Linked DNA regions of Homo sapiens. The protein of the gene in region 2 interacts with the protein of the main gene of each other region in a biochemical or structural test. Each region holds a gene or a part of one and is shown on either strand. Other genes may lie near its edges.

What was found. The genes of interacting proteins can lie anywhere in the genome.
Region 1: the proteins of LGALS8 (region 2) and TRIM6 form a complex in vitro, tested with the Homo sapiens proteins (one study listed by BioGRID).
Region 3: the proteins of LGALS8 (region 2) and TRIM49 form a complex in vitro, tested with the Homo sapiens proteins (one study listed by BioGRID).

The regions. Positions count from the first base shown.
Region 1 is NC_000011.10:5,591,828-5,599,652, forward strand, and holds the start of TRIM6 (tripartite motif-containing protein 6), read left to right. Parts: upstream 1-4,809; 5' UTR 4,810-5,070; coding exon 5,071-5,087; intron 5,088-7,825. Other genes in the region: TRIM6-TRIM34 (tripartite motif-containing 6 and tripartite motif-containing 34), read left to right, coding at 5,071-5,087.
Region 2 is NC_000001.11:236,519,952-236,527,002, forward strand, and holds the start of LGALS8 (galectin-8), read left to right. Parts: upstream 1-4,030; 5' UTR 4,031-4,110; exon of another isoform or gene 4,111-4,557; intron 4,558-6,016; 5' UTR 6,017-6,119; coding exon 6,120-6,164; intron 6,165-7,051.
Region 3 is NC_000011.10:89,805,560-89,813,233, reverse strand, and holds the start of TRIM49 (tripartite motif-containing protein 49), read left to right. Parts: upstream 1-4,658; 5' UTR 4,659-4,797; intron 4,798-5,949; 5' UTR 5,950-6,135; intron 6,136-7,674.

The DNA of each region.
Region 1 (7,825 bases), on a different chromosome or scaffold from region 2:
TTGGGTTCCACCTGTGGTTGCATGCTTGGTTTATCTAGGCATGTTCAGGCTATGTGACCTTTAGCCCCGGGGGGCTGTGGCAATTGAAAAACAGCTCACAACTATGACACTTAAAAGTTAAACCAGATGAGTCCGCTGAGGTTATAACATCTTGTTTTTGTTCTACCTGTGAGTTAGTTACTCACATGGACTCTGGAGCCCAAAAGAGGTCTGATCTATAGTTAATGTTAGGACTTTGTCAGCTAGGAAACTGGATGGGATTATCTAGGAAGGGGATTTAGAGAAAATGAGATAATAGGAAAGAAACAAACAAAAAGCTATATTTAAGTGACTAGCTTGATTTTCTTCAAATTGACTAGAATGTGAATATATGCACAGCAAAATTCATGTTTTATTCATCGGTATTACTCCAGAGCCCTGCCAAATGCTTGGTACTTCATTATAGTTAATAATGCTACCTATCACTCACTGACGAGCTATTGTGTTTCAGGGACTGTCCTAAGTACTCCACATATACTTGCATATTTAGTCTTCACAATAACTCTATGCAGTAGGTATTTTACAGATAGGGAAACTGAGGCCCAAGAGAGGTTAAGTAACTTGCCCCAAATCATACAGATGGTAAGTAAATGAGCTAGGATCTGAATCTTGGCAAAACTGGTTCCAGAGTCCATCATCTTAAATACCATCTTAAATACCGTGCTATATGACATATATAGTTTAATATGTGTCTGCTGAAAAGAAAGAACAAAACAAATTTTTAAAAAGAAGGAAGGAAGAAAATATAAAATATCAAAGGAAAGATGGGGCCAGGCGTGGTGGCTCACACCTGTAATCCCAGCACTTTGGGAGACTGAAGTGGGTGGATCGCTTGAGTCCAGGAGTTTGAGATCAGCCTGGGCAACATAATGAAATCCTGTCTCTACAAAATACACAAAAATTTACCCGGCACGGTGGTGTATGCCCTTAGTCTCAGCTACTTGAGAGGCTGAAGTGGGAAGATCACTTGAGCCCGAGAGTTTGTGGCTGAAGTGAGCTGAGATTGTGCTACTACATGCCAGCCTGGGCAACAGAGTGAGATTGTCTCAAAAAAAAAAAAAAAAGAAAAAAGAAAAAGAAAAAAGAAGAAAAAATGAGAGGAAAGTAGGGAAAACAAGAAGGATGGAAAAAAGAGAGGGAGGAAAGGACCAAAAAAATGCATTAATTAGGTCCATGTTTGATGATCAGAAGCATCTGAAAACAAAATTGGTGGCTTGTTTCTCCTACATCCCTAAGCCTCTGGAACAAGAGGTGTTTCTCCCTGAAATTTGTTTTCATTTGGTTTTACTGAAGTTCTTCCTGTAATCAGATGTTAACAATTATCTTTCAGAAAATCCAGTTAGGCCTATCCTGAATTCTCAAGCATAAACTACCCTGATTCTTAATCTTAGCCTTGCAATATCTACTTTTTTCTTTTCTTTTGTTCCCATCAGCTCCCAGCTGGTAGTAATGAGTTAAGAAGGGTTTTCCATGAGAGGGGCAGAAACATTTCTGACAACAGGAATCATCTAACACTGCTTTCAAACAAGTTGTACTGAAAAAATATACTAGAGATTTTTTTCACAGGAAGTCTCTCTCCTGTGAATATATTAGAGATTTCCTCAAAGAAAATATATTCGAGCATATTAGAGATTTGCTCACAGAAAATCTATCTCCTGAGTTTGTATTTTTTTTATCACTATTTGGCTATGAGAATATTCTGTGACCCTTGTCATGGTCCTGTTTGCTTTTCCTGAAACCTCTTTCCTATCAAATGTTAATATCCACTTATTGCTATTAAGAAATCTTGACACCTCAACCTGTGCACTAAACAATATTCCTGGTATATACTGAGTATTTAATATTGAGTATTGTAATAATAACAGGCTGGCTCTGTTGATACCACCCTGAGTCTAGAACTGCAGCAGTGGGTCCTGAGTCTAGAACTGCAAGTACTCTGAGTATTCAGGAACTTGGGGCTGTCAGCAAATCTGTGCCCTCTTTACCTTCAAACCTGTCCTACTGGATGCATCATATTACCCCACCAAACCTCTGGATCCCACATACTTGGTTCCCTTTTAACACTAACAGTATTCCACTGTATTGGGTATACCACTTGTTTTTCAATACATTTAATACTTGATGAACAGTTGGGTTGATTCCATTTTTTAATATGAGTAAAACTGCTATGGACATTTGTGTACAAATCTTTGCACGGATATGTTTTCATTTCTTTTGAGTAGATTCCTACGAGTGGATTTGATGGATTATGTGGTAAATTTATATCTAACTTTTCGAGACCCCTTGAATTATTGCCAAGTACCTTCATTTCTTCTCAACCGTCAGAATGCCCAATCTCCCTGTTCAAGATGAGAAATTATAGAGAAAATAAAAACTGCCTTGGTTAGCAAACAAAAAGGAAAAATTCTGCACACTGAGAAACAGTCTTTCATTCTGTTTTTTGTTTTCTTTTTTGTTTTGAGACTGATTATCACTGTGTTGCCCAGGCTAGAGAGCAGTAGCAGGATCATGGCTCACTGCAGCCTCAACCTTCCGGGCTCAAGTGATCCTCCCACCTCTCAGCCTCCCAAGTAATTGGGACTACAGGCACGTACCGCTATGCCTGGCAATTTACTTATTTTTTTTAGACAGGGTCTTACTATGTTGCCCAGGTTGGCCTCAAAATTGTGGATTCAAGCTATCCTTCCACCTCGGCCTCCCAAAATGCTGGGATTACAAGCGAGCCAACATGCCCAGCCAACATCCTTTTTTTTTAACTGAGCCTACTAGCCCCAGAAATGAAGCCCTATGCTGACAAGACTATGGAGCCTGTAAGTTACTTCCATTTATATCAGCTCTTAGAAAATGGCCTGAGAAGGGACTCTGGGTTGGGCTTCTCCATCCCTTTTCCAATATTTCTAACCCTCTGGGTGTCAATCATACCATTTTGTATTCCAAGGGACTTAAATGTTGGCTGGGCCAGTGGCAGGGTGGTGTCCATACTGGGCAGTTTGGGTGGGGTCAGGAGAATTTCAGAGCATAAGCAGGCTTTGACCTGAAGCGTCATCCAGGGGCAATATGGAGGCAGCCATACCTAAAACCGTTGTGAAGAAAGCTACACAAAGGGTGATCTGAAATAACCTTTGCGTGGCTTCTTAAGCCTGCAGACATGAGGTAGTCACTGAAATAGTGACACATGTCTGCACTTACGAGATTCCAATGACCTTTCATTTGCCTGGGGACTGTCCAGAGAAATCTCTTGATACTTAACCCAGCTCTCTCCCTACTGCCCAATCCTCCGTCCAGACTTTTGTATGGACACCCCAGTCCCTTCTCTCTCTATACCTCCCTCCCCAAGCCACCTTCTAAGGCAAGGTGATACTCACCTAATCAGTCTCCTTAGGGAGGAACTTTGACATTCTTTTTCTTCTCAGAGTTTCTGTGCTATTGAAACCCTGTAGTTAGAGTTCTGAGGCTCAATAAGCTTTACATGTATTCATCAGACCTAAATAAAAACAAAGATTGTCTTCTAGTTATATAGGTCAAAATTACAGATACACACACACAGCTTTATACATACATACGTGTAATTTTAAACTGATGAATTTTAATGATCGTTTGGCAAAACATGCCATTATGCAAAGGGGCTTTTACTCGTATAACTTTATATGTTTATTTAGACATTTTAATTAATACGTCTATATGGAGTACAGGTGTATTATCAGTGTAATTAAACTCTGATATGATATTAGAAAGCTACAGTACACTGCAGACAATTTACAAGGGTCATCTCTGGCCTGGTGTTCTCAAAGGCCTCCGGATTTGCCGTTCATCAGGTAAGATGAACAGCTTTGCGTTGCTACCTTCAAAAATTCTTTTTTTTTTTTTTTGAGAGAGAGTCTCGCTCTGTCTCCAGGCTGGAGTGCAACCTCCACCTCCCGGGTTCAAGCGATTCTCCTGCCTCAGCCTCCCGAGTAGCTAGGACCACAGGCGCGCCCAGCTAATTTCTGTATTTTTAGTAGAGACAGGGTTTCATCATGTTGGCCGGGATGGTCTCAATCTCCTGACCTCGTTATCCGCCCGCCTCGGCCTCCCAAAGTGCTGGGATTACAGGGGTGAACCACCGCGCCTGGCCTCAGAAACCATCTCCATCTCCCTTACCACCTGAGGGGTCACTGGTGACCACACCCATGGAATCGGCTGGATCTCCTGCGGGGCTGGACAATTTGACCCTCCTCCTCCCCAGGCCCCGCCCCTTCCCCCCTGAGTCTTTCGGCCTGGGTGGAGGACGCGGCTGCTTCAAGTCCTTGGCTCTGATCCAGGCCACAGATTCCAGGTTAGTGAGCAAGTTTATTTTCTGGCCAGCTACCGCTGTCCCCACTTGTCTGGAGAGTTTGACCCGCTCTGCAGGTCGGGTTGGGGGTGGTTCACGGGTGAAAGAAGAATGAGGGAGACTTCTGCATTTTCAAGTGAACTCAAGTTTGGGAAGGGAGCACAGAAGAGGCACCTTTGCAGCTGGGAATAGGCCGTGTAAAGAGAGTTAAACCTCTATTCTACAAGCTGAAGTATGTAGAGGAGGCAGCTCTGGAAACTGCTTTAGGGAATCACTGCAAACCATTTTGTCAGGCGTGGATTCAGAGTCAGCATCCCTTCCCCCCTTCCCCCGTTCTCCCCTTCCCCCCTTCCCCCTTCCCCCTTCCCCCTTCCCCCTTCCCCTCCCCCATCTCCAGCCTGGCCGCTCCAGGAAGTGAGCACCGTTTATCCCCCACCCCAGGCGGCCCGACTCCTCCCAGAAGGAGTTGGGAGATGAGCCTTCCGCAAACTCCTGACCTGTGGGTCCGTCCGTTCAACGGCCAAAGGCTGGCGGAGGAGGGATCCCCTGCCTTTCTCGGAACGGAACGGAGCAGAGTCGTGCGTGGTTGAGTTTAGATAAAAGCCGAGTGAGCGCGCTCTGTTCCTTAAGATTAGTTTAAGGTGCCTTGGATTGCTCTGAAGAGCTTTGACCACCTGATATTGCTTACATCTGGAACTTCTTGGCTTCTCATTCCCCAGATGTGCGGGTCAGAGAGGTATGTCTACCGTTCTGTTGACTGGCTCTTATTGTCACTTCTGGCAGAGGTGACAGGGCAGTGAAAGAGATAAGGTCCTTTCCCTTTCGGAACTCATTATATCTTTATTTCTTTTTCTTTCTCACTGCAAATGACCCCACTGAGGTTAGAGACATTTTAATCAGTCAGTCAATAGAGACAGAAATGTGTGGTTAGGAGCATAGATGCCGCAGCCAGACTGCATGTGTTCAAATCCTGACTCTGACAGACACTGGCTGTGTGCCCGAAGACTGTTAACTTGACTTCTTTGAGCTTTAGTTTCTTCCATCTATAAGATGGACGGAGTAATATGTATATCTTAGAGTTTTGGTGAGGATTGAGTGAGACAGATTTAAACACGTAGGAGGCTGCCTGACACAAATTATGGTCATTATTACTGGCAAACTCCATGCCTAGCTTTAAAAAAATGCACAATCAAAACAATTTTTAAATTATAGGTTTCTGAAATGCAGGGGGTAGAAATTCTTTTGAAGTGGAAATTAAATTTTTTGTTTTGAAACTGATTATGTTCCAATTCAAATATTTATTGAGTCCTGTTAGATAATCAATTGCAGATAATAGGTTAAATATAACCCTACACAAAGATAAAAAAAAATGTTATTCCTAAAGTGCAAGAACTCATGCCCAACTCACTTATAAATGCAACTGCCACCTATTTTATTCCACTTTCACTAGGGCTCCCAGCTGGTGGACGGGCCCGCTCTGTCATTCCTAACTCTGAACCCCCAGCCTACACCAGCCCCAGTATCCCCTGCTGAGTCACTGATTTTTATTCTGAAAGCCATTTTGATATCGATGCAAGCTTCCATTCTAAAAGATGCTTCGTATCTAAATAGCAGGCCATTCTCTGTCCCCCTCCCTCTTCTAGCTGTTTTGCACCCTAAATTGTATCCACCTGGGAAAGAAGGTCCTTTATCTAAGGCAGTGCTTCTGAAGCCTTAATGTGCGTAAGAATCACCTAGAGAACTTTAATATTAAAGTGCAGATTCTGAATCATTCCAGGAAAGACTGAGATTCTGCATAAAGAACTCCAAGTGCTTGCAGTGTTGCTAGTTAGCAGACCTTTTTCAGGCGTCTGGTTCTGATTTAATTGGTCCCACCTGGTTGTGAATTTGGGCTCTTTCTTCTGCTAATTTGATGCACTGGGCTCTGGGACTGCAGGCTCTTCTCGTCTGCACTCCTCACAGTCAGAATGCCTTCTCTCAGCCCGTCCACACTGCTCTGGAGACTTGGCCTCAGTTGGAAACTGGCAGCCTCCCATATCTCCCTTGGGCTGCACTTAGCTGCAGTGGGCAGTCAGGGCTTGCTGGTGTGTGGGCAAGGGTCACCTATGCTAACTGTATGCTCCCCTCCTTCACAATTTCTTTCCCAAGCCTCAGCTTTGACAAGAGACCTCAACTCTTACAAATCTTTTTTCTGCTCAAGAATTTTTCTCTGTCTAAAGAGAGTATTAGATGAATATCTACAGCGCATATTAGATAGGAAAAAGACATATAATGAACTAGAAATAGAATGAAGCCACATATGTAATGTTACATACTCAAGTAGCCTCATTAAAAATAAGCGGGTGAAATTAATTTTAATACATTTCATTTAACCCAATACATGCAAAATACAATTAGGACATGTGATCAACATAAAAAAATTAATAAGATCCTTTAACTTTTTTAAACTAAATCTTCAAAATCCAATGTGTATTTTGTACCTAAAGCAACCCATTTCTGAGTAGCCACACTTCAAATGCTCAAGAGCCATATCTGGCTACATGTTTGACAACACAGTTCCATTATGCTTAGAAGATCAGAAACCAAGCTTTTAATTTTTCTTGTATTTTTTTGTTTCTGTCAGTTTATTGAGTTCTATCTAGTAAGTTACAAATTGTAAGCATACAGTTCTGTGAATTTTCACAGTTGCAGTCAGCTGTGTAACCACCACCATGATCATGATACATAAAGGGCATTTCCCTTTATGTATTCACCCTTCAAATTTCCTTATGCCCTTTGCAGTTCAAACTTTTCTCCCACTCCTGGGCCCTGGCTTCCACTGATGTACTTTCAAATACCATAGCTTTCTCTTTTCTAGGATTTCACATAAATAGCATCATACAATAACTTAAATTTGATGTTTGGGTTCTTTCACTTTGCATGCTTTTGAGATTTATCTTGTTGTATATATTAACAGTTTAATTGTTTGGTAATATGCCACTGTATGGATACACCACAGTTTGTTCATTTACCAGTTAGTGATGTCATGGATTCTTTTCAGTTTGGGACTATTACTACATTGCATTTATGAGGCAGTAGTTCTCCTTCAAGAGAATTGGGTACGCTAAATACAGTTTTGCCTGAAATGAAAGTGTGCATGTGTTTGTTGGGGAGGATGAATTGGAATTGGACTTTCAATTAAAATATAATACCAATACAATTATTATATTTATTTATTTATTTATTTATTTATTTATTTATTTTGAGACGGAGTCTCGCTCTGTCGCCCAGGCTGGAGTGCAGTGGCACGATCTCGACTCACTGCAAGCTCCACCTTCCGGGTTCACGCCATTCTCCTGCCTCAGCCTCCCGAGTAGCTGGGACTACAGGCATCCGCCACTACACCCAGCTAAATTTTTGTATTTTTAGTAGAGACAGGGTTTCACCGTGTTAGCCAGGATGGTCTCGATCTCCTGACCTTGTGATCCGCCTGCC
Region 2 (7,051 bases):
TTTTTTTTTTTTTTTTTTTTTTTTAGACACAGTTTCACTCTGTTGCCCAGGCTGGAGTACAGTGGTACAATCTCAGCTCACTGCAACCTCGGCCTTCTGGGTTCAAGCGATTCTCATGCCTCAGCCTCCCGAGTAGCTGAAATTACAGGCATGCGCCACAAGGCCCAGCTAATTATTGTATTTTTAGTAGAAACAGGGTTTCACCATATTGGCCAGGCTGGTCTCAAACTCCTGACCTCAAGTGATCCACCTGCCTCGGCTTCCCAAAGTGCTGGGATTACAGGAGTGAGCCAACGTGCCTGGTCAAAATTTTTGTTTTCGTAATTTTAAGTATGTGTGTAGTAAGTCTCAATGGAAATGTAATTCTTATGGCAGGTCACTTGAAAAAAAAGAAGTCTAAAAGTCACCAATGTAGTATCTTCTCTTTAAAAAAAAAAAAAAAACAACAGGAGAAAACCTGAATCTGCCCTTTGCTCCACTCCTTCCTCAGCTATAATGCTGCTTCTCCATTCCTCCTCACAGCAAACCTTTCTGAAATCTTTATAGTCATGGTTTCCACCAGTTCTTCACCTCCCATTTCTCAACACACTTCAGAGTCAGAGTCAGCAATGACATCCATGTTCCTAAGCCCATTGCTTACTTCCGTCCTCCTTGGCCTCTCAGCACACTTGGCACACAGGCTGTTTCTCTTTCTTTGGCATCTGTGACACCACTCTCAGCAAATTCCCCTGGTTGTCCCTTCTCAGTCTCATTTATTGGCGTTGTCTTATCTCCCCAGGGCTGTCCGAGGTGATTTTCTCCCACTACTCTCCTAGGTGGTGCCATCCAATCTCATGATGTCATATCATTCTTCCCTCATGCTTCAGCCATACTGGTTGGTGGCCTTTGTTTCCTGAACACATTTAATGCATTCTCAAGACCCTCAGGGACTTTGCAGCAGCTGCTCGCTAAGGCTGGAATGCTCTTCCCCACCATCTTCATATGGCTGTTTCCTTTCTTTCACTCACCAGCAGCTTAAACTTTGACTCCTCTGAGAGACTTTCCTTGTCACCCAACTAAGGTTGCCACTCAGGTGCTCCCAATTTAATCTTCTCTAAAACACATCACTGTATGTGTCCTCAACTAGAGTATAAGCTTCCTCGAAACAAGAACAATCAAAACTCCTTGCCCTCATGGAGTTTATAGTCTTATGATGGGTGAAGTAACATAAAATAAAAAGGCACCTTATATAGTATATTAGCATGACAAATGTTAGCCAGAAATAAAGCAAGGAAGAGTTGCTAGGGAGTGTGTATGAGTGTGTTTTGGGAGAGTGTTTGCAATTTTAAATATTGGTGGTCAGGAAGGGCCCCACTGAGAACTGACATTTGAGTAGACTTGAAAAGGGAAAAGGAAATATTGAGTAAAGATTTTAGGATGGGAGTGTGACAGGCCTGCTAGGAGAATAGCAAAGTCGCTGTGGCTGCTGCAGAAAAAGTGAGAAGGAAAGTAGTAGGAGATGAAATCACAGTGTGTGAGGATTCGGGCAGATCAGGAAGTGCTCGTGTAAGAACTGGATCTTTACTCAAAGAATGAGCAAAAATTAGTAGACGGTTGGCCGGATGCAGTGGCTCACACCTGCAATCCCAGGTTACAGGAGGCCGAGGCGGGCGGATCACTTGAGGTCAGGAGTTCAAGACTAGCCTGGGCAACATGGTGAAACCTCATCTCTACTAAAAATACAAAACTTAGCTGGGCATGGTGGCGCGCACCTGTAGTCCCAGCTACTCAGGAGGCTGAGGCACATGAATCACTTGAACACGGTAGGCAGAGGCTGCAGTGAGCTGAGAATGTAACACTGTACTCCACTCCAACCTGGGCAACAGAGTGAGACTGCCTCAAAAAAAAAAAAAAGTAGGTTTTAGTAAGGGATTAACATGATCTGAATTATGTTTTGTCATGACTTCTCTGGCTGTTGTGTTGAGACTACATTGCAGAGGGGCAAGGGCAAATATAGGGAGACCGATTAGGATACTGCAGTAATAATGTAAGAGATGTGGGACTCTATCTAGAAGGGCCCATGAGGTCCTTTGCATGCTAGTATTCTTTACTGCTGTGCCTGGCCATGATAGGCATTCAGTGAATATTTGCTTATTTAAAATAACACACTGGGCTAATTGAACAACAGTGCCAAATGAGGGAGATATTTCTAGGAATAAGTTCTTAGGATTTATGAACATTTTAATCCAGATTTTCTTTGTTAACTCTGCTCTCTGGCCCTTTCACTCAGCCCCGTTTGCACCTAAATATGACTTACAAAAGAAACACAGCATTTATGTGTACTTATTTCAACTTATTTTAGCTTTGTAAAGAAGTACAAGGTTGACTCAGGGCCCAGCTTGGTGTCTCATGCCTGTAATTTCAGCATTGTGGGAGGCCAAGGCAGGAAGATATTGTGAGCCCAGGAGTTTGAGACCAGCCTGGGCAACACAGTGGACCCTGTCTCTACAAAAAAAAATTTTTAAATTAGCTGGGCATAGTGGTGTGCGTCTATAGTCCCAGCTACTCCTGGGGCTGAGGTGGGAGGATCACTTGAGGGAAACCCTGTCTCAAAGTGGCGGGGCTGGGGGGAGACTCAGGCAGAATTGTGAAGATATTCAATTGCTCCTGACTTTATCAATAATCTAACATTTCAACCTAACATTGATATCTATTTTATGCAAAGCATTACACTATGCACTGGAGACTGTATAAGACAAGTTCCTTTTCTCAAACTACAGTCGAGTTGGATAGATAAAACACACAACACATACCAAAAGACAGCTATAAATCCAAGGCAGTGTATGTCAAGGGTAAATTCACCTATTCAGATTGGATCTTGAGAAGTGCATCAGGCTTGGAAAATGGGTAAGGAGGAGAGAAAAGCAACAGTGAATCAGAACATGAGTTCCCAGTTATGGGACTTGTAATGAATTCCTCAATTAAAACAAAAAATAATGAAAACAAAAGCCAGGGAGGAGAAAGCCCACGTTAATGACACTAAAATATATCTTTCCAAACAAATGTGGATAAAAGCCAAGTAGAGAAGATGAGAACTTTGAGGTCCCTAACAGAAAATAAACAGTAAGCAGCCAGCCATTCCAAGTGGCTGACATGACTTTGTTTAACTTTATTTGTATTTCTGGCTGGTGTGTTTACAGCCAATAGGTCAAACTATCAGTCAGTGTAGGGCCCTGAGAAGTCGGGTATTTAAGAGCATCTAATAGGCACAGAATTGTGCTCCATACTGCTTAAACTGTTCCCTAAGTGTCCAATTTGGAGAAAACACCCACACGCAGGATAACTGGCGAGTGACGCGGAGTGGCTGCGAGTCCAAGTTATCACTAACGGATGGGGAGCTTGGGCTGGGCACAGTCCAGCGTACTGAACCCTTCCCCCACCGTTTCACCTGCATACAGAGGTGTGTACTGTCAAAAAGCAGCGCCTCCAAGTCTCTTCTGGCACTGTCTGGACTTGGATCCGAGGCAGACGAGGAAGCTGAGAAAACCCTGGCGTTGACCCCGTGGACCTGGGCGCCCCGGGAAGGCCAGCGCTTGGTCCAGGCAGGCGGGGCCTGTGCGGTGACCACCCTGGTCCTGAAAAGTCCCAGCCCCGAGCGCCCTCCCTCCTAGACCTGGAGGCCTGGAACAGCCAGGTGGACGTCGGCCCACCTTTCTTTTCTTTCCTTCCCATTTTCCTACCACCTCCCACCCCACTCCGCCTTCCGGGCAAAGGCAGCCAGATCCACCCAGGACACATTCTTTGTCCTTATCCCTCTGTGCTCGTCCCACAGCAAGCCAGTCGCGGTCCAAGGCTCCAGAGGCTGTGCAGGAGGCCGAGCTGGGTGGCGATCAGCGGCGGGTCCCTGTCCAAAACCCAGCAGAGCCGCCAGGGACGCCCCAGACACAGAAGGCGGGGCGCGGGGAGGGTGGGGAGACCACAGCAGTGAGGCGCGCGAGCCGGGAAGTGAACGAGGACTGACTCCTGTCGCTTCCCGTAGCCGCCCACGGACGCCAGAGCCGGGAACCCTGACGGCACTTAGCTGCTGACAAACAACCTGCTCCGTGGAGCGCCTGAAACACCAGTCTTTGGGTGAGTCGCGCGACCCCCGGCCTCGGGTGGCGGGGCAGTCGCTAGAGGCGTGGCTGCTCTGAGGGTCTCGCCAGTGGAGGATGGCATTCGGATGTCACGGCTCCTAAATCACCATTTGATGGGTGGGACAGTGTCCAGTCCACCCCGACCCGCCGGTCCTCACCGCGGCAGAGCCGGGGCTGGGTGGCGGGGACGCTGCCTCTGCAGGCGAGGCGCTCCGGGGCATAAGGGATTATCAGGAGTCGCGGCCTTTCTTGGACATCCCTGGCTGGGGTCAGGCTGTTTGCCCTGGGGTGTCTCCTCGCTGCAAACCCACCCCACCTGGGCTGCTTTCTCACCTGTTCCCTCCTAGCCTGAGGCCGAGCGCCACCTCCAAGTGGAGGAATCTGGGGAAGTTTCCTTCCCGGAATTTGTAGTGACAGTGGAGTGACCTCCATTGCGTTCCCTGCCTCTAACACGCTCTTTAGGATGCCGAGTCATTTGACTGCAGTGTTAAACATTGCAAAGCGCAAGTCATGTGACTTCCTTTGACCGTACGTGAAACTTAAGTGATGGCTGCTTGTGATGCATACGAAGTGTTCATGCTGGCGGGACCTGTCCCTGGGGATACTTCGGGGGTTGCGTGATTTAATGCAAGCAGATGGCTTAAATTGGGTCACTGGCTTGTTATTATACATGTGTATGGCAACTCGGCATCCATTCTTTTTGCTCTTGTTCTTACTTCCTGAATTGAGTCACGGAGCCAGAGTTTTGAGGTTTTGACTAACGAATTAAGTTAATGACATGGGGCTATATTTAGGTGGTAAACCAAGAGGGATACAGTTTTTTTTCTTAATAAAGAAAAAGTGATAGATTTGATCGGTGTGTATTGTTGGTGTGCAGTATAATGACAGAATTGCTGGAAGTAAAATACAGGAAGCTCTGGTTTCATTTCCCCTTTAGTTCTGCTTAAAGTCGAGTTTTTCCTGGAGCTATTAAATGTAGTGTAGTGTCCATGAGTGCTTTTATCTTAAAAAATGTGGCTGATGCTTTCCAACACTCCCCTGCCCTGTGATTATTATTTTTTTAAGCAACAGAGAAAACCGTATCTTAATAGTATTAAAAGTATTGGATTTTTCCCTACTTTGATTTGTTTAAATTGGAGGAGGAAGAGCAATTCTTTCTATTCACAATAATAATAGCTAACATAGCGCTTACTCTTTCGCTGTTTTATTAACTCAATCCTCAGAACAAACCAATGATGTGAATACTGTAATTCTCATTTTATGGAAATGAAAATCTAAATGAATACCTCTGGTAATTGTACGGGACTGTTTGATTAGTATTTACCATTAATTAATTAAATTTTTTTTTTTTTTTGAGATGGAGTCTCGTTCTGTTGCCCAGGCTGGAGTGCAGTGGCACAATCTCGGCTCACTTCAACCTCCGTCTCCCAGGTTCAAGCAATTCTCCTGTCTCAGCCTCCTGAGTAGCTGGGACTACAGGTGCATGCCACTACGTCTGGCTAATTTTTGTATTTTTAGTAGGGATGGGATTTCACCATATTGGTCAGGCTGGTCTCTAACTCCTGAACCTCAGGTGATCCACCCGCCTTGGCCTCCCAAAGTGCTGGGATTACAGGTGTGAGCCACCATGCCTGGCCTATTTTAGTATTTTTAATAATAAATTCCATGTTAGAAATTTTCTACTGATGTATTTTTTAAGTCAATATTTCCTACACTCACAATCCAAAATTATTTAGTATATGAGCACACTGGTAAGAATGGGAGGCAGATCGTTGATTGTAATAATATTCTATTATTTGGTAAATATCAGTAACATAATATATAATTTAAATTTTAAAATAGGATATGAAGAAAAATGCTACATGCTTACTTTTCTTTTCCTCTATTTTTACTTTACACAGGGCCAGTGCCTCAGTTTCAATCCAGGTAACCTTTAAATGAAACTTGCCTAAAATCTTAGGTCATACACAGAAGAGACTCCAATCGACAAGAAGCTGGAAAAGAATGATGTTGTCCTTAAACAACCTACAGAATATCATCTATAACCCGGTAACTGATTTCTATAAGATAACTTTTTACCTATGCCAGGACAGATCCAATAGAATATTAATTATCCATTGGGAGACAGGGCAAGAATAAAAGCCAGTGAACATATTTAAAGCACCTACTATGTAATAGAGATGGTGGTGGGTGCTGATTACAAAACAGCTCTTGTCCTCTAGTGGAGGAAGAAGTCACAATGATAATATGACGTGATGAAACAGTGTTATGAACAGGGAACGTCTGGGTAGAGTGGAGGGAATGCCAACTTTTGGTGATGGGAGGAGGCTCAGCTAATCATAAATTGTAGTTTTTAAAGGAAAATGGATTTCTTACTCTACAAGTTTTTCATTTTCTTTTTTAATTAGAGCTGTCCATGAGAAGTTAATGTCTCGATCTTTCCCTCAGCCTTTCAAATACTGCTTGGCCCTTGAGCAGGGAAAATGTCAAAAGCCAATGGGGAGATGGAGAGTGTGAAGTAGTAAGGGTCTCGTGCAGTTCAGGCAGGTCCTAGAATCCCTGAATGACTGTAATTGCTGGAAATTGCCCTGTAATCCTGAGCAGTAAAGAGCTTGTTTTAGTTTTATGTGGTGGTGAGAATCTTTAGGAATGTCTAGTTTCCACGTATCTGAAGCTGAATCCTGAATCGAGGTCTGAAAAAGGACAGCCACTTTTTTAGTAAACCGCCTAGAAGATTCTTGGGCAAAAGGAAGGGTGAGAATCCTTAAAATGAGGCCCTAAACCAGTTTTGTTAGTGTGTGTGGGTTCAAGTTTTTGTCATTTACTTTATAGCTGTATTTCCTTTTTCCCTAAGTTTTAATGTCATTGTGTAAGAATGAGGTATCGCTGCTGTATCAAGCAAAGTCAGTTTTAGGAGAAATAGCCTTTCAGTGGTA
Region 3 (7,674 bases), on a different chromosome or scaffold from region 2:
GAATGGGAGGTATCCACTTAGCCTATAGGTGCTTTCAACTCTGACTCAGCAAATTATAGGTATTAACTTTCTCTGTGGCCTACTCCTCACACCCTCCTAACCCATTCTTGCTCAATATTCTTCTTAAATCTGCATCTAGGTTTGCTATCATATTACCATCCAAATAATAATTGATTTGGATGTATTTACATAATGCAAAGTTCTTTAAGTAACTAATAACATTTACTTAGCATTAATTGGTCCCTTTCTATGTATGAAGCAGTGTTCTACTTGCTGATACCTACAATATTTTTCATAGACTTTAAAATACATCGGCATACACAGTGTGAAATCATTTTTGTGTGTGCTTGTTATTTAGGTCACAATATAAAATACATACTGCTAGAATTCTAATAAAAACATACTGCACAGGAATGGTGAGGTAGCATTTAAATCGGGAAAGTTCAGCTTGACAGGGTCCTATTACCAGTGCATCCTGTTAGACTAACAACATTCAACATCATAAGTAACACATCAGTAACAAGCTCTTAACTGAGACAAGGTTAGAAATGTGTATTTTTATTTTATAAATAATCTCTGAAAAAGACAGCCTTCTTAAGCACAAATATCATTTATTATGGTATGTTCAGTCCTTTTCAATTTTTTACTTTCAAACAATATTCTCAAATATATTTAGAAAAAGGTTTTAAGGTATAGTATTTCATTAATGCTCATCGTTTGGAAAAAAAACCCAACTGGAATACAAGCACATGAATTTGTGTTTATTTTTTTAACTGTGGATTATCATGGTATTTAATCTACTTATTACAAACAATTTTTGAAAATAGTAATTGATATAACTTGAGACTTTTCATCAAAATTTGAAGACATCTAACAATATGCATAATGAATTTGAGTTGGAAAAAATGTGTAATACAAGTAAAAACAAAAATGCATTTTCCATTCCTACCTGGAGAAAAAAAAGATGAAATAACATACAGGTTGAGCACCACTAATCAAAATATCTAAAAATCCAAAATACTCCAAAATCTCAAATGTTTTGAGCTGTGAAATGTCACCAAAAGTGAAATATCCCACACGTGACCTCATATGAGAAGTTACAGTCAAAACATATTCTCAGTGAACAAAAGACTCTCCCAGCCCCTTCAGTTGCAATATATCTTTCTGTGTCCACCTAGATGCCCCCGAGCAAGAGCACTCACAAAGGGTAATAAAATGGCATGTGTACACAAACTTTGCTTCATGAATAAAGTTATTTAAAATATTGTCTAAAATTATCTTTAGCCTATCTGTATAAGGTGTATATGAAACATAAATTTTGTGTTTACACTTGGGTTGATACACAAGATATCTTATTATGTCTATGCAAATATTCTGTAATCCACAAATATCCAAAACCTGAAATTCTTCTGGCCCTAACATTGTGAATAACAAACAGTCAACTTGTATTACATGGTTTTATAATGGATTTATTTGAAAATGTGACTGAAATCTGTGGATGAAATTTTACAAACATCAGTTTAAGCCAAATAGTATTATTTTGTATAGCAGAAGGGGATACACTGGGTTTATTTCTCCACAGCATCCAAGTAGAATGTGACAGGGGTAAGGAGGAAAGATTTCTGTATGTAGTACTCATGATCCTTTGGGCTTAGGGGAGGTAAAAACACAAGATATGCTAACCTTACATTCTGCTCTGTTCCTTGGAAATTTTATAAACAACACTTACTGTTGTTTATAAACAAGAATGGATTCCAGTGAAGGGAAATGGCTAAGTCCATGAGCACCATTAGAACTGGCAGGGTTCAGGAAAGAATGTGAAAACTCTACTCCACAGTACTCGTTTTTCTATACTGTGCTAGGAAAGATGAATGGAAAACAAATTTGGCAATGTAATGTCTGCGAACAGGATACACAGCCAGATATGGGAAGAATAAAATATAAGAATCTTGTGTCTACTGAATCTAGAGAAGAAAATGTTCTGTTAACTCTTTGCTATGAAAATGCTTCGAGGCTGGGAACCGTGGCTCACGCCTGTAATCCCAGTGCCTTGGAAGGTCGAAGCAGGAGGATTGAGTCCAGGAGTTTGAGACCAGCCAGAACAGCATAAGAAGACCATATCTCCACAAACAATTTAAAAACTAACCTGAAGTGCGGGTGTCTGCCTGTAGTCAGAGCTACTCAGGAGGCCGAGGTTGAGGATCACTTGAGCCTAGGAGGTTGAAGCTGCAGTAGCTATGATCCAGCAACTGCTCTATAGTCTGGATGACAGAGTGAGACCCTGTCTCTAAGAAAAGAAAAAAGAATAGAAAAGGAAAAACATGATTGAAATCTAAAACCTAGAGTGCTGTTTGTAACTGTTGCCTCCATTATTTTCTCAAGGAAGGAAACCTATTTGATTCTGATTTTTACAGCCTAATGATAATGTAGCTATATTCAAGAACTCAATGTTTCATTCATCAGAGGAAGAAACTTCAGAATGTAGGCTGAACCTCACCTGAACACACAAGCACAGAAGGAATCATATGTGTTTCTGTGGCTCTAAGTGAGAAAATACGTTGAGAGATTTGAGGATTTATGGAGTTGACGACATGTAATTGATCCCTGAATCCATCCCATACAGGAAACAGGACCATAAAAAGATTGCTTACGACCGGGCGCGGTGGCTCACGTCTGTAATCCCAGCACTTTGGGAGGCTGAGGCGGGCGGATCACGAGGTCAGGAGATTGAGACCATCCTGGCTAACACAGTGTAATCCCGTCTCTACTAAAAGTACAAAAAAATTAGCCGGGCATGGTGGCGGGCGCCTGTAGTCCCAGCTACTCGGGAGGCTGAGGCAGGAGAATGGAGTGAACCCGGCAGGTGGAACTTGCAGTGAGCCAAGATCACGCCGCCACTGCACTCCAGCCTGGGCGACAGAGTGAGACTCGGACTCAACAACAACAACGAAAAGCTTACCTTTTATGTGCTCATATGTAAAGTTGGGACAATGCTACACATATTGCATGTTTTCTGTGGAGATTAGGAACAATGTGTGCATGGAGACAGCACAGTAACTGGTACATCATAGCCCATGTATCACATTGTCCCCTTCCTTTTTCTAACATATTTCTCTCCACTCAAATAGATAAGAGGTTTCAAGAGAAAATGACTGGGGTTTGTAGAAAAATAGACAATAAACGGGTAAAACAATTGAGAAGAAATGCCAAAAAAAAAAAAAGCGTTAAAGAAAAGATAGCCCTGGACATTCAGGATCCACAAAGCAAAATATAAATTTGTGGAAAATTAATAAATTTTGTTAGCATGGGAAAAAATATGCAGAATTCTCTCCATGTGCGCAAATAAAACAAACAAAATGTCAAAGTAGTTATAATACCTAGGTTTTAAATGGTATTTATCATAGAATGGCATTTTTATAAAAATTTAAAAATTTCCAGAATTAAATAAAGTCAGATTTCTACATATGTTAAGGAACGAGAAATAGATCACCAACTTTCATACAAAGATTTTCCAATGAGTTTTAGAACCCAGATGAACAAAAGAGTCTATTACCAGATTCTCAAAAATAGATGTGTAATTCAACAGAAAACTTTGTGGTAGAGGTAGGTTTCAGATGCTAGAATGGAAACAGTCTCATGTACAAAAAAGTATCTTTTTTATTAAAAGGAGAAGCACTGGGAAATAAGGAAATATTCCAAATTGGCTGGAGTGTCCTTTATCCACATCACGGATTGTTCTTGCCTATACCCACCTCTACTCTCTCTTCTGGATTGGGTAGGACTTTTGGAACCTACAAAATGCCAACTCTAAAGAGAATTACTTTCTTATATTTGTTTCATGGTCTGAGACTCAAGTAGGAAAATAGGTTGTTTCCTTGATAATGCCACAGTAGACAGAGGTAGGTCTGTAATTGAAAGCTCCTAATTTCCAGTGCTCTAGGCTTCAACTGCCTAAAGCTGAGTGTTTGAATAAGTGAATGATGTGGTGCAAAAAGTGGTTGAAATAAAATCAGAAGCTACCTACCTTCCTTTCTCTCCTTGCCCTAATTCCTTCCTGATACACAGCATCATCAGACCTTGTAATGGAGTACCAGGGCCCCGCCACGGAGCTCCAGAATTTAAGCAGAGAATGTCCACAGGATCAAGTCCATGACCCAGGGTTTCACAAGTTTCCCACTCTGGAGTCCAGGACTGAGCCAAGAGGGCCCCCACACACAACCAGCGCAGATCTTACTTCTGTGTGGACACTTTGGTTAATTACTTAGATTTATTGAGGTACAGAATGTGCATACAGGGTGGTCAGTCAGTTGGTGGTCTTGGATAGTAAACTGACAATAGAACAAGAAAATCTATTGTTCAATTCCTTGTATTTAATTAAATATAAACTCTGGATGATTTTATGATGTGTCAACTTGAGTACATGTATGTACAAAGAGGGAAATGAGGGCAGTAGCCATTTTGTGGCATAGACATACCTTATTATTCTTCAATGAAACACTTACTTAGGACCTGCTGGAAAGGCATTTTGCAGATGCGAGCAAAGGTCCTAATCCTGTAACTAGGAAGTGTACCCAAGTAAGCCTGACTTCATCAGTGAAAGTCCTTTAAAGAAACACATAGGCATTCCTTGAACAACATTTTAAATGGCAAATGGGACTCTAATCTTCCAGTTGCCCCCTATTGACTTTAAACCAAAGCTTTGATTCATGACCACTGGGATCCAGCCAGCGGGGGATTTCTTTTCCTGATGGACTGTACCCAGGATCTCACATTTGCTTAAGCAGCTCCCACAATTGGGTAAGTCAAGTCTTTGCACTTAATTCATATGTGAATCTCCCTAACTATACATATATCTTATGGGTTCTGCTTTTGTCTTTGAACCTGGACAGACCTGGGTCTGATAGATTTGTCTTCACTGTTTTGACAGTCTTGACCATAAGTCTTCTGGACCATTGGCAAAGAATTCCTCTATCAGAAGATATTTGAGTAGTCCCTTCTGAAATCTCTTTTTTAAAAAAAATAATTTTCATATAACAACAAAAAGACTTGGCATAGAAAGAAAAATATAGTCCATCTCTATCATTTGGATTCTGTATTTGTGAATTTGCCTATATGCTAAAAGTTATGTGTAATCCCCAAAATAATTCCCGTGGTGCACTCCTAGTCATTGTAGGACATCATGCACTATATGGAGAAAAACGTTAAAATCATAACTCATCTTTCACCCATGAGACTGGTGAAGTTTTGTAAATTCAATGAGAGACCCCAGGTTAGTGGGTTTATTTGGTTAATCAGTGATTTCTCTTAGAGTGGTAGAAAACAGAAAACAAAAAGGAAAGTTTTATCTTCCATTGGACTTCTCTGGAAATATCCTATAAATGTACTAAAGCAGCATTTAAGCTGGATGAGGTGGTTTATACCTGTACTCTTAGCACTTTGGAAGGCCGAGACCAGAGGACCACTTGAAGCCAGGAGTTGGAGAACAGCATGGGCTACAGAGTCATACACTGACTTTACCAAAAATTTCAACAAAAAAAATTAGCCAGGTGATATAGTGTGAGCCTAAAGTCGTAGCTACTTGGAAGGCTGAAGCAGGAGGATTACTTGGAATTCAAGGCTGCAGGGAGCTATGATTATGCTACTGCACTCCAGAAGGAGACCCTTTCTCTAGAATAAATAAATGTGCACTTAGAGGAATGCCTGTATCATGGAAGAAACTCAATAAACAGTATAAAATGCATCTTAGTTAATTTCTAGCCTATGTATGCTCTGACAGGATTTATGTTACATATGATTCATTCAGGCACTGGTGTTCAGAATGAAAGTGTGATGATAATTTAATCAGAGCTGCAAAGGTGTGTTCTAAATACTGCATAAACCTAATCATCTTTGTCTCCACCTTTCTGAATGCTCTAAATACCCATAAAGAGGTGGGTGTGGTCTTCACAGGTTCTTATAAAAGGACACGGAAGAGACAAGCTCAGTTTTCTCTGAAGGAGAAGGACTGCACTTAGAACTGCATTTTGGCGACCTCTGAAATTCAGTACTGCAGTGAATGAGCTTCTGATCTTGAGGTGAACTTAACAAAATTATTTTTGGAAAAATCGTTGTGGGAACCATTAAAAGAACTCCAGGGTGAGTGAAACATATTGATAAAATTATATCATCTTTCCTTTACACAATAATAAATTAGAGTGTTAAAAATATCTCATTATCTGAAATCTACACAATGATACCATTTGTAACTCATGTTCTTACTATAGATTTTATGAATTATAAGGATACTAATTGTTGTTATTTTGTGCTTTCTATGATTGTTTAATATAGTTCTGAAAAACTTAAAATATCTAGTGTTTGCTGCAACAGATATGTATTCATAATGAATATATGGAGTTGATACATATATGTACACATAGGTGTGTGTGTATATGTATGTAATGAGTGTATTAATATTGTCAAATTGAATTGAGAAGACATTAATGAATGATGAAGTTATTTGCTTTCATAACATTCAGGTTTTAGACATGACTTTAAATTAGTAAGGTAATGATGAGCGATGCAAAATAGTGAAACTAAAACAATGAGAAAGCTCCCCAAAATATCCTACTTTAGAAATCAAAACACAATTTTTCGAACAAGTAAATTTATAAGACCTAATATGGTATGTGATTGTGATTGTCATCTCACTTGAGTCTCAATCTTATTAAACTGTGAAAAATTTCTTAAAATGTCTTAGATGAGTTCTGGAAAATATTTGCAATTCTAAGATTTTTCACTGCTTTCACTTAAATTCAGAAGTGATATAAAACTAGCAGCTTTATGCTGCTTTATGCTAAAGGATTTAAAATTGCCAAAACAAAGATTATAGTTTTTATATTAGTCAGGGTTCTCCAGACAGAACCATAGGATGTATACATATATGTGTGCAGATACATTCATGGGCCATTTGAGTCAGCCACAAACCACATATGGGGGTCCCATAAGATTATAATACCAATATGTTTACTGTACCTTTTCTGTATTCAATTATGTTTAGATACACAAATAGTTATCATTGTGTTACAGTTGCCTACAGTATGCAGTACAGAACATACTGTACAGGTTTGTAGCCTATTGTAGGAACAATAGGCTATAGTGTATACCATAGGTGTAGTAGGCTATACCATCTAGATTTGTGTGGTATATTCTATCATATTAAAACAATGAAACCGCCGGGCTGGGCACTGTGGCGCGTGCCTAGAATCCCAGCACTTTGCAAAGCCAAGGCAGGCAGATCACTTGAGGCCAGAAGTTCAAGTGCAGCCTGGCCAAGATGGCAAAACCCCATCTCTACTAAAAAAATACAAAAATTAGCCAGGCCTAGTGTCACGTTCCTGTAATCCCAGGTACTTGGGAACCTGATGCAGGAGAATCGCTCTGAACCTGGAGGCGGAGGTTACAGTGAGCCGAGATCACGCCACTGCATTTCAGCCTGCGTGACAGAAGGATACTCTGTCTCAAAAAAAAAAAACAAAAAAAAACTAAAAACACCTGACACATTTCTCAGAACATACATCTGTCCACAAGCTATACATGATTCTACATGGGACAGAATTCATCAGGAAAATTAATTTGCTTGATTATGGAGTCTAGAGAGTTCCAATATAGGCTGTCTCTAAGCTGGTGTCCTGAGAA